Linked DNA regions of Homo sapiens. Each later gene encodes a partner of the first gene's protein in a complex. Each region holds a gene or a part of one and is shown on either strand. Other genes may lie near its edges.

Region 1 (7,040 bases):
AGTGAGACCCCCGTCTCTACAAAAAATAAATTAAAAAAAAAATTAGCCTAGCTCAGTGTGGTGGTGCATGTCCCAGCTACTCTGGAGGCTGAGGCAGAAGGACGACTTGAGCCCTGGAGTTCAAGGCTGCAGTGAGTCATGATCACACCACTGCATTCCAGCCTGGGCGATAGAGTGAGACCTTGTCGCTAAAAAAATAACAATAATTAAAGAAAACAACTCCACACTCGGCACAGAAGTACCTGTGTCATGGTGTTTACTGTGGGCAGACTTAAATAAAATGGGGAAAACTTGATGTGTGTGTTATAGTTTTGTACGGTTAACCACGTGTGAATATTTACAAGAATCAAATTGAGAAGCCATTCTTGTTGAGCATAAAATTCATCCTTAAATTTCACCTCACCAGACAAATAGTTATGCCTGCATTTTATCACTGGAATCGAGAAAGAAATGATGAATTTTTTAATGGCTTTTCCATAACTTTCTGGTGTTTTCTGGTCTCTTTTTCATGCCTGTCTAAGATCAGGCCTTTCAAAATATGTACTGCTTCATTCTGGTGGCAGTATTAACTGTTAGGTGAACTTTGGGAGGGAGTGGTTGACTGGAGCAGTCAAAAAGGATCGCATCTCTTTTTAGGCATCACTGAGTGTTATTCACGCAATCAACATGGCATCTTTTTGTCGGTAGCTTTGGTTTTTGACTCATGCCAATGCACAGCACGTTCTTTGCTGATGAATAGATTTCTCTGCCTCTTATCAGGAGTTGTCTGCTGTGGGGTAGGGAGGATGTTGAGTTACACACCTCAAAATGATTGCTAGTGCATACACATGGAATCTAACAAAAGTGACGTGTTTTATTCTGGGAAAGGTCGAGATAAATTGGTGCTAGAGTTGTCTTGTTTGATCATTAATTGGCTTGCTCCTCCAGCCAACTTAGGTCACCACATTTCCTTCTGGGTAAAATGAGATGGCTGTGCTTCATAATCTCTAGGAGATTATATGTCACAAAGTAGAGGCAGCAAATTATTAGCTTCCAAGTAGTTCTGCCCAGGCAATGTGTTAAGCAGCAGGAGGAGGAAGTAAGCCAAATGGAAGTGTGTGTGTGTTTGGGCAACGCATCTAACTTGAAAGGTGTATAGATAATAGACTCTTCAGTCAGAACCAAGCATAAGAGAATAGGATTTGTGACTAAGTAGGCCATCAACAGAGAACATTTATTAAGGACTTTTTTGTAGAGGAGTGAGGGTGAACTCAAAAAATGTTTCAGGGAGTTTGGTGGAAAGCTATGATGCAATTGGAAGGCGAGGATGCCTGAGGGAGGAGACGTGGAGCCACCTAGGTGTGTAGGCAGAGGGGAGGGAGGTCGGAGGCGGTCCCAGGCCGTGTTGCCAGAGAGCCCAGGGGTGCCAGGGCTAGTTAGATAACTTGGAGGAGAAATCTCTGTTTCTCACCATGACTCTTGGTACTGTGCATGTTGTGAAGCTGTGTGCTCTGGGTATTTCCACATTCTGGATTTTTCAAATCCTTTTGTTAATTTTTGACCATGGTGAGTTCAGGCGTTGTTATTATGTTGCTTATTATGAATACAGTGAGGATGACTAGGTGTAAATGAATGTAAGGTAACAGCTAGATCTGCCTGAGGTGGAGAGAGACTGGGTGTGTATTTTGGAAAAAAAATGGAGAAGTGAAACAGGCTGTTCAGGCTTCACATTCTGGCTGCATGGAAGCCAGCTCATTGCATTCTCCAGGAGTTCTCTGGGAGTCTGTGGACACAGACTCCACTTTTGTCTTAGGCCTGACTCGTACAAACATATTCTGTTGTTTGACAGGGGATGGAGAAACACTATAGAACAACTGGACACATTCATTTCATTGCCACATTCTTTATTCAAGTGTGACAGAGAGCAAAACAGTATAAAGGAGTTGAACTGACTACTGTATTTTAATTTCAAGTTCCTGTGAATTGGATTAGATTTTTGGGTACAGAAGCTAAGGTAATTTCCAAAAGGTTAGTGCCCATAAGACTGTCTATGTTCTCAGAGTTAGAAAAACCTGGGAAAAAAAAAAGCCTTACAGACCTCTGTTTCTACAACTTGCTGTGCAGAACTCTAACAGATAGGAGTGTTTATGCAGCTAGGTGACTGCTCTGGTCTGTGCAGTTTCACACCTGTGTATTTGATCAGATGTATATACCTGGAAATACATACATAATGTGGTTGGAAGTCAGATTAGAACTGCCTGAGGACTACCCATTGGTGAATGCAGAACATTCTTTGGAATGAGTGCTAGTATTCTTAAATAACATTTAAAAATAGTTGTTTGGGAGCAAACAGTTGCCACCCTCATAATCCACTTTAATTTGTGCCCAGTACTTGATTTTTATCACAGCAGTCCTGGAAAACCTAGCTTCATGAAGATATGATGTCATCGAAAGGAATGCAGTGCAATCTAATTAACTCCCCTCCAGTGGGGTGCCCTACAAATGTCAAGTATCTATGTTTCCCTCAGAAATTTAAAATAGCCCACCCTGCCCTTGTGAATTTGCCGTGATGCTTTGGGGCACCTCAGCATGCAGTTTGGGAACCTCAGGATTAGAAGTTGGTATTATTGGCTCTAGTTTATGGACTACAAGGTATAGTGGTGAGGAGAAAAGGCATCAAAGTCCGTTTTTAATTCTCCATCCCCCCTTCCAGTATCTGTAAGCTTTTCCCTTGGGCCCCTCATTTCCCCCAGAGCTTTGCAGTTTTGGGATGCTACCCTTTTAGTTGCTAAGCTGAGGGGAGGGACAGACAGGAAAGAGACTGCAGTTCAGGTTTCCTGTGCAAATCGTCCCTCCAGCTCCACTTTCCTTTGTGCTTTCTCTCCATTTTCTGCTGGGTGCAATTCCTTAGGAAGTGGGTCTGCTAGGGTAGCACAGGGATGTGGGTCATGGAATCTACAGCCTTTCAGGGACCCCTCGAGCCTCCGGACCCGGCCTGTCTGGAGAAGTCTCGAGAAGTGCCCGTGTGCTGTTCAGTTCTTTTCCAGTTCTCTGGTGGGAATCAGCTTTCTCATTGTTGGCTGCTGCTTTCCGCATTAGGTTTCATTGTCTCTTCACTCTGTCACTCCCGGACCATTTGCTTTCCACTTTCTAAATTTTGTTGCTGTCTTGCATCTACAGTTGTTCTTTCTTGGTGTCCTTTTTGGATTTGTACCTTACGTAGACCTTTTCTGTCACTGGGTGGGAGTGAAGATAACACATACTTGACCTGCCCTATTTAGTTAGACCTGGGGAAGTTTGTGGACTTCTGTTTATTGATCTATAAAACATGGATGATAGTGTCCAACTTGCAGGTAATTTTAAGGTGCTATATGCCAGGTACCTAGTAGATATTCAGTTAATAGTGGCTGCTAATATAATTACAGCCATAGCATTTATTATTTGAGCAAGCAAGGCAATAGCAATAGGTAGTGCGAAAAGTGGACATATTTCATGTGTGGCTGAATGAAGTGCGTAAGAGAAAAGAAAGAGATTTTCGAAATGGAGAAAATAATTAGCTCAGTTTTAGATATGTTGAATTTGAACTACCATCAGGGTACCAGATGAACATACTATACAAGGGGTTGCAAATTCTTGTCTGGCTCAGACATGCGGATGTAGACTTTAGGAATCACTGGTTTTTATAGCCCAGGGAGATACCATCTGGAAACAGGTAAGGGTTTCAGTCTCGTGAAATAGCTTCATGAAGAGCTTGTCAGGAAAGGGAGCTGTCTATGTTGAAGAAAGCTAAGGGGCCAAGGAGGAGAGAAAGCAGAACCTATTATCAGAGTGGTTTTATGGACAATTAGGAAACATTTTCAAGAGGATTACTGCCAGGCTGTTTGGACCTGATAGAAGCAGTAATGGGTGGTAAGTCCTGGCTCAGACTTGAAGGTCTCCCCTGTGCCTCTAGCTAGATGTGTGATCCTGTGTAAGACACTTTCCCAGTTAGACCTGTTTCCTTATTTGTTTTTAAAAAACACTTGAGGCCAGGCACGGTGGCTCACACCTGTAATCCTAGCACTTTGGGAGGCCAAGGAGGGAGGCTTGCTTGAGCCCAGGAGTTCAAGACCAGCCTGGGCAAGATGGTGAAACCTTGTCATTACAAAAAAAAAAAAAAAATTAAAAAAAAAATTAGCCAGTCTTGGTGGTATGCACCTGTAGTCCCAGCTACTCTGGAGGCTGAAATGGGAGGATCACTTGAGCCCGGGAGTTTGAGGCTGCAGTGAGCTATGATCATGCCACTGCCCTCCAGCCTGGGTGGTAGAGAAAGACTCTGTCTTTTAAAAAAAGAAAAAAGACTTGGGTACCCTTCCAAGATTTTAGTTCATGCACATTCAGACAGATGGCTACACCTGAGAGAATTCACTATATACTAGCTGGGCCTCAGGTGGAGATGCTGGTCAAACTTGCAGGTGTTTTCTAGAAACATACACAATGAAGTCCTGAGAGAAGAACTTTTCCCTGTATTCACCTTAGGGTTGTATGTGCCGTAGGGCATTCAGATGAGGACTGAGAAAAAGCCATTGGATTGGCCATTAGGAGGTCTTTGGTGACTTTTGCTGACAATCAGGGGGAAAGGATGGGGTGGGAGCCCTGGTGTCCTATAAACTGAGCAGAGAGTTAATCAGGTTTGCAGGCACATTGAGAAATGGGTAGTGATGGGCAGAGTGAGGTTGGGCTTGGAAAGCTTTTTGTGAGAAAAGTCAGTTTCAACACTTCGATAGGGGCAGACCTGGGGGGATCATTGACAAAGTGACAGTTACATTGGATAAACTGAACTTGATGAAGAGCTGCCTGCAGTGTTGAGCTGGTGACAACTTCCCTGCAGAGTGGTATTTGGGAGCCTCTAGTCTAGTCGAGTCCTATATACCGGACATAGCTGCCCCTCTTTAAATATATCTTCTTAGGAAATCCTCACTCCTTGTAATTAACTTCTCTAACAGTCGAGAAGTTTCCTTTTGCTGTGGCTCCATGCCTTGTGGAGCCCCTCACTCAGTGAGTTTGTATAGTTCCCCAACCCCTAGCTTTGTCTGCTGTAAATTAAAGACATTTGGTTTCTTATCGAACTGGAAGGGAGGCCTCAGAACCAATGTTTCTTTAGGTGATAGCAGAACGTTGCAGATCATTTTTGATTTGTGTTTTGCTGCTTTAATATATTTTTCTGACATATATGTTCAAATTCATTCCTTTCATAATTTGTTTTTCTTCCTGAAATATCTACCTTTAATTCCCCATGTTCTCATCTTGTGACTTTTATCTATGTCTTTGCATTTTAATTCTGTCTTCCAAAGTGCACTCTATTGTCAAAAAGTATTGTAAGTACCTTTTACAGGTAAGTGTCATCGCAGGTAGATTTATGCTTGGTTCTTAAAACTTAAGCAAAACAAAAAAAAATTATTCTCACTTCTCAGGACTAGCAGTTTCCCATGAGTAAGGCTGTTCACTGAACTATCACAGTTTATGGTCAAAGTGTGATATTCATAAAAGTCTCATGGGTGAGGGAGAAAAAGAGGAAATTCTGCTAAAGACAGAAACTCTTGAAGGGTGTTATGAGCTACAGAAATGGATCACACATAACATACAAATGATGCAGGCATGTAGCAATCAGTTCTTGGTGTCCAAACTCCTTAAGATCTGATGAAACATTTTTTGTTCTTTCCAGAAAAAAAGCGCAAGCACACAAGCTTCCACCAATGCTCTCATCCTTATTTCACATGTGATTCTAGGGAGTGTATTTTCTCCCTGAAGCTCATTTCATGGACTCCCAATTAACCACACTCTAGGCCTGCACTGTCCAACACAGTTCCCACTAGCCTCATGTAGCAATTTAAACTAGTTAAAATTAAATGAAAAATTCAGTTCTTCAGTTAGACCAGCTACTTTCCAGTGCTCAGTAGCCACATGTGATTAGTGGCTACCATATTGGACAGTGCAGATTATAGAACATTGTCGTCATTGCAGAAGGGTCTGTTGGATTTTGCTGCACTATATAGTTTCATGATGGTTTAAGATTTAGTTCCTTAACTAAGTCTTCTTTTTCTTTTTTTTCTTTTTTTTTTTTTTTTTTTTTTTGGCCCTTCTCACTTCCTCCTTTCCCACTCCCCCCACCACTGTTAGTGATTAGTTAACATACCTACAGAGGTGCCTTGTTTTAAGAAAAATGTTAACATATTTCTTAAAAGTTAAGTTAGCTGATTCAGCTTCAAAAAAAGTTACTTAATTGAAATAAGTTCTTTCAATAGGGGAGGTGCTCTGACATAGCGATAGTATGGTTTGATAATACAGTTTTTCTCCTCTAGCTGCCTCCTGTTCTTGAGGTAATGCTCAGTGATTAACTAGATAGGACTAGATAATTTATTTCACCTTGGCAGGTCTTGCCTCCAAGTTGGCCTATTCCTATGGTATTTCCTTTTCTTTCTTTTGCTTCTTCCTGCACACTAAGTATGGTATTTTCTGACAGTATTTTTCTTAATTCTTTATTTATTTTTCTTGGTAATTTCTTGCTGTAGAGCTGGTACCCATTAGACATAATGACTTTCCTTGACTTGCTTCTTGCTCATAAATTTCTGTAAGACAATCAGGAAGTTTTTAGAAACAAACAGTGGAACCAATTAGGCTGTTAAGTGAGACACGCCTAAATTAAGCTATGAGGAAATAAATACAGCTCCAGCAAAAATAGAAATAATTTTCAGATTATCCATGCTTTTGTTTCCCTGGTTTTCTTTGAACCTCATTTCCTCAAGCTATGAAGTGAAATGAAGTGGTAAGTACACCTCTAAGTAGGACATTCAGGGTGAATCCAAAGGAACTTGTGAATTTGACCAAAAAAAAAAAAAAAATCTGTTCCTAAATTTAAACCAGGAGTGATAAATTCATTTTAAGTTTTTGGAGGGGTTACAGAGTATGTGTTTTAAAATCTCAAGTTTTGAGAAGGCAGTTTACAAATGATGCCTGCTCTCCCTTTGGCAGCTTATTAAGGAATGTAGTCGTTTTTCAGCATTTGCCAGCTCCCTGTCGCA
Region 2 (3,649 bases), on another chromosome or scaffold:
TACCCCAAAAGAAGCAAAATTGTGTTTAAAAATAAACTCTAATTAATATGCAATGTTGAGGTGTGGAAGGGGAAATGTACTGACATCTGTAATTTGCTCTGAAATGTACCCAAGAGATAAGGCATGATAGATAGAATTAGTCTTTATAAATAAATATGTGGGCCGGGCATAGTGGCTCATACCTATAATCCCAGCACTTTGGGAGGCCAAGGCAGGCAGATCATGTGAGGCCAGGAGTTGGAGACCAGCCTGGACAACATGGCAAAACCCCATCTCTACTAAAAATACAAAAATTAGCCAGACATAGTGGTGTGCTCCTATAATCCCGGCTACATGAAAGGCTGAAGCAGGAGAATCGCTTGAACCCAGTGGTGGAGGTTGCGGGGAGCTGAGATCACACCACTGCACTCCAGCCTGGGTGACAGAGCTAGATCCTGTCTCAAAATAAGTATCTGATAAAGTTCATATAATACAGTGTCAATGACTGAATCCAGGTGGTGGCCTTAAAGGTGTTCACCGTACAATTCTGTCAACTTTGCTGTGTACTTGGAATTTTACAGAATGAAATCTTAGGGAAGAGTGGTATTAAAAGTATAGAAACTGAATTACTTGGAATACTACTCAATAGGTATTCAGTAAATACATTTAGTGAATAAATAAGCACCTCATTCCTTCTTCAGGCTAGAAACTAAGGCATCACCATGTGTGCAGGTGACCCTCATGGTGCTGGTACCCAGAAAAGTCACAGTCATCAAGGCTTCTTTGCCATCCTTACTGTGACCTGGTAGCGTTAATGCTCCATGGTCGCCCAAGACAAGATAAGACAGCCTCCCATGGCTCCCCACAGAGTGGAGAGGGGATGCAGGCACAGGCCAGAGCCACGCGTCATACTCTGCAGAGCTGATTCCCCAACCCAGCGTCCATGGCCAGAGTGGGGGACACCCCACGCCCTCTACCTGATCAAATTTCCTCTGCTTCTTTTCCAGGTTGGACACGAGTTGCCGCTGGTTGTCCAAATCAACAACCAGGTCGTCCAGCTCCTGCTGAAGCCTGTTCTTGGTCTTTTCCAGTTTATCATAAGCGGCCGCCTTCTCCTCGTACTGCTGGGTGAGGTTCTCGATCTCCTTCTGGAACCTCTTCTTCCCCTCTTCCAGAGCTTCCACGGTGCTGGCAAAGTCCTGCAGCTTCTTCTTCGAGTCGGAGAGCTACAAGGACAGCGTCCAGGGTAGGGTGAGAGGGGGACCATGAGTGGCCCCTGTCCCTGGCCCCACAGACTCTGAGAAGCGAAGACCATGTCTCCTCGTTGGAGAAACCCAATAGCAGGGGAAGCTGGGGGGTCAAGCACCATCGCACCAACACTCCACCGCGATCTGCCTGCGGGGGATCTCAGCGCAGAGAAGTTGAGAGGACCCATGAAGGAAGCAAGGACACGGGGCAGGCACCTGGATGTTGAGAGTGGAGATGTGGCGCTCCAGGTTCTGCTTGGCCTCCATCTCCTCGTCCAGCTGGTCTTGCAGGCTGTTCCGCTCCTCCTCCAGCTGGCGCAGCTTCGTAGACACGTTGAGCTTCTGCCGGGTTTCTTCTTGAAGCAGCTCCTGCAAAAGGGATGCAAAGAGGTCCCAGGGACCTGCCCCGAGGAAGGCCACCCCCCAGGTCCCCTGGATGATGTGGCAGGACACTCACCTGGGTGTCCTGGAGCTGGGAACTGAGGGACGCCACGTCCTTGGCCAGCTTAATGGCCTTCCCCTCGGCCTCGTTAAGCATCCCTGTGACGCTCTCAACTTCATTCTAAGGGTGCCAAGAGACTGGTTAGTCAAAGCCTCTAGAAGGGGATCCTCGTTGAAAGGAGCCCTTTTTACTCAAAACACATGGGCTAGTACTTGAGGTGTTCACTGATTGAGAAAATACCCGTGAGGTATGGGACTCTGATAAAAAAAAAAAAAAACACACACACACACAAAAAAAACAGAATCTGTGGCTTGAAGGGAACTCCGTCACCTATGAGTTGGGACCCTGGCCCTAGACTCTGTGGTTCTAAGAACTTATTTGAGCCCCAATGGTATTGACTGGGACCTGATCCCACTAAATGGATCCTAGATCCCTGCCAAGGTTGGTAGAGACAAAGCAGCAGGTCTGAGAGTCCAGACGAGGTGCTCTGGCTGGTCCACTCTCTAAGGCTGGAGAAGGGAGACCAGGATGGTACTTGAACGTCCCAGGGATGCTGTCCCATCCCTTCCTTCCTCACTCCTACTCTTTGACCCTGATGGCCAAAGCCAGAGACGCAGGCCCTAAAGGTAAAAACGTCCTCTCTGTATTCTCTGGCTTTTACTCCCTAGTGTCTCTGCATAAGTCCCTTTGAGGCTGTTAGCCTACCCCTCCATCTCTTCCATTGACAAGGAGGATATGAATGATCTTGACACTGCTTATATGAGGGCGGCAAAAGCCCTGCTCTCAACTGCATGTGAGAAAAAAACATCTCACTTAATTCTTCCCTCGCCCCTTGGTCCCTGGCTGTGGACATGTTAAACATTTGTGAAAACTTTGGCCACGTCCCCATGAGTGGCAAGGCAGGGTAAATGGCTATGCCAAGTGAAAGAAGACCAAAGACAAAAAGACCATGTCATTCAGCAGCTTAAAACCCCTCAACAGCTTCACATTGCCCAGAGTAAGGATCAACATACATGTAATAGGTTCTCAAAAGCCCTACATCATCTGGGTACAAGCTCCCCCTCCAACCCCACTCTGTACTATCTCCCCCTACCCCCAACCCCAGCTGGGCACTCCAGCTCTACTGGCTGTATGTCTCTCTCCTAATTTTTCTACTTACCACAGGGCCTTTGCACACGCTGTTCCCTCTGCCTGGTAGACTTATCCATGCTCCTTAGGGAAGCCTTTCGTGGCTCCTCCTCCCCCAGGTTAGGCCCCCTGGTTATTTACACTTGGGCATCATGTGCCTTCCCTTTGCTGCATCATTTGACATTCATTTGTGTGATTATTCATGTCTTTCCCTTCCCTTCCCTTCCCCTTACTCGGCTGGAGTCCTACTGGGGCAGCGACAGTGTCTCTTCTTCCTTGCTGTTGGATCTCAGGATTAAGCACAGTGCCTGGCATACAGCAGGTGCTCAATAAATACTTATCAAATTGGAAAAGGAAGGGTTTTTTTTCTTTTTTTTTTTTTTTCCTGAGACAGAGTTTTGCCCTTTTAGCCCAGGCTGGAGTACAATGGTGCGGTCTCCGCACACTGCAACCTCTGCCTCCTGGGTTCAAGCTATTCTCCTGCCTCAGCCTCCCGAGTAGATGGGACTACAGGTGCCCACGACCACGCCTGGCTAATTTTTGTATTTTTAGTAGAGACTTTTCACCATGTTGGCCAGACTGGTCTCAAACCCCTGACCTCAGGTGATCCACCCACCTCTGTCTCCCAAAGTGCTGGGATTACAGGCATGAGCCACCGTGCCTGGCCAGAAGGTTTTTTTAATATTTAATTGAACAGGGAGATCATCGCCTCTCCTCCAGGAACGCAACTAGAGGAAAGGACTTGCCTTGCAGCAAGAGAGACCTCAGCGAGCCGGGAAGAGGCTCCTCCCCACAGAACTGGGCACCACCCAGCACTGCCCACCACACCACCGCGCCACCTCCTCACCTGCAG

Evidence for each region. Proteins that work in one complex are often made in the same cells at the same time.
Region 2: the proteins of RAB9A (region 1) and NDE1 are in contact, whole or in part, in a crystal structure (PDB 7E1T), measured with the Homo sapiens proteins. Residues at the interface, in NP_001182257.1 of Homo sapiens: Ile40, Val42, Phe44, Asn46, Gln59, Trp61, Arg68, Phe69, Ser71, Leu72, Pro75, Phe76; in NP_001137451.1 of Homo sapiens: Asp99, Gln102, Thr103, Ala105, Ile106, Gln109, Leu110, Tyr113.

The regions. Positions count from the first base shown.
Region 1 is NC_000023.11:13,692,121-13,699,160, forward strand, and holds part of RAB9A (ras-related protein Rab-9A), read left to right. Parts: intron 1-7,040. UniProt on the Homo sapiens protein: The small GTPases Rab are key regulators of intracellular membrane trafficking, from the formation of transport vesicles to their fusion with membranes.
Region 2 is NC_000016.10:15,723,205-15,726,853, forward strand, and holds the end of NDE1 (nuclear distribution protein nudE homolog 1), read left to right. Parts: intron 1-956; coding exon of another isoform or gene 957-986; coding exon 987-1,047; coding exon of another isoform or gene 1,048-1,205; 3' UTR 1,206-1,442; coding exon of another isoform or gene 1,443-1,595; 3' UTR 1,596-1,683; coding exon of another isoform or gene 1,684-1,788; 3' UTR 1,789-3,149; downstream 3,150-3,649. Other genes in the region: MYH11 (myosin-11), read right to left, coding at 957-1,205, 1,443-1,595, 1,684-1,788, 3,644-3,649. UniProt on the Homo sapiens protein: Required for centrosome duplication and formation and function of the mitotic spindle. Essential for the development of the cerebral cortex.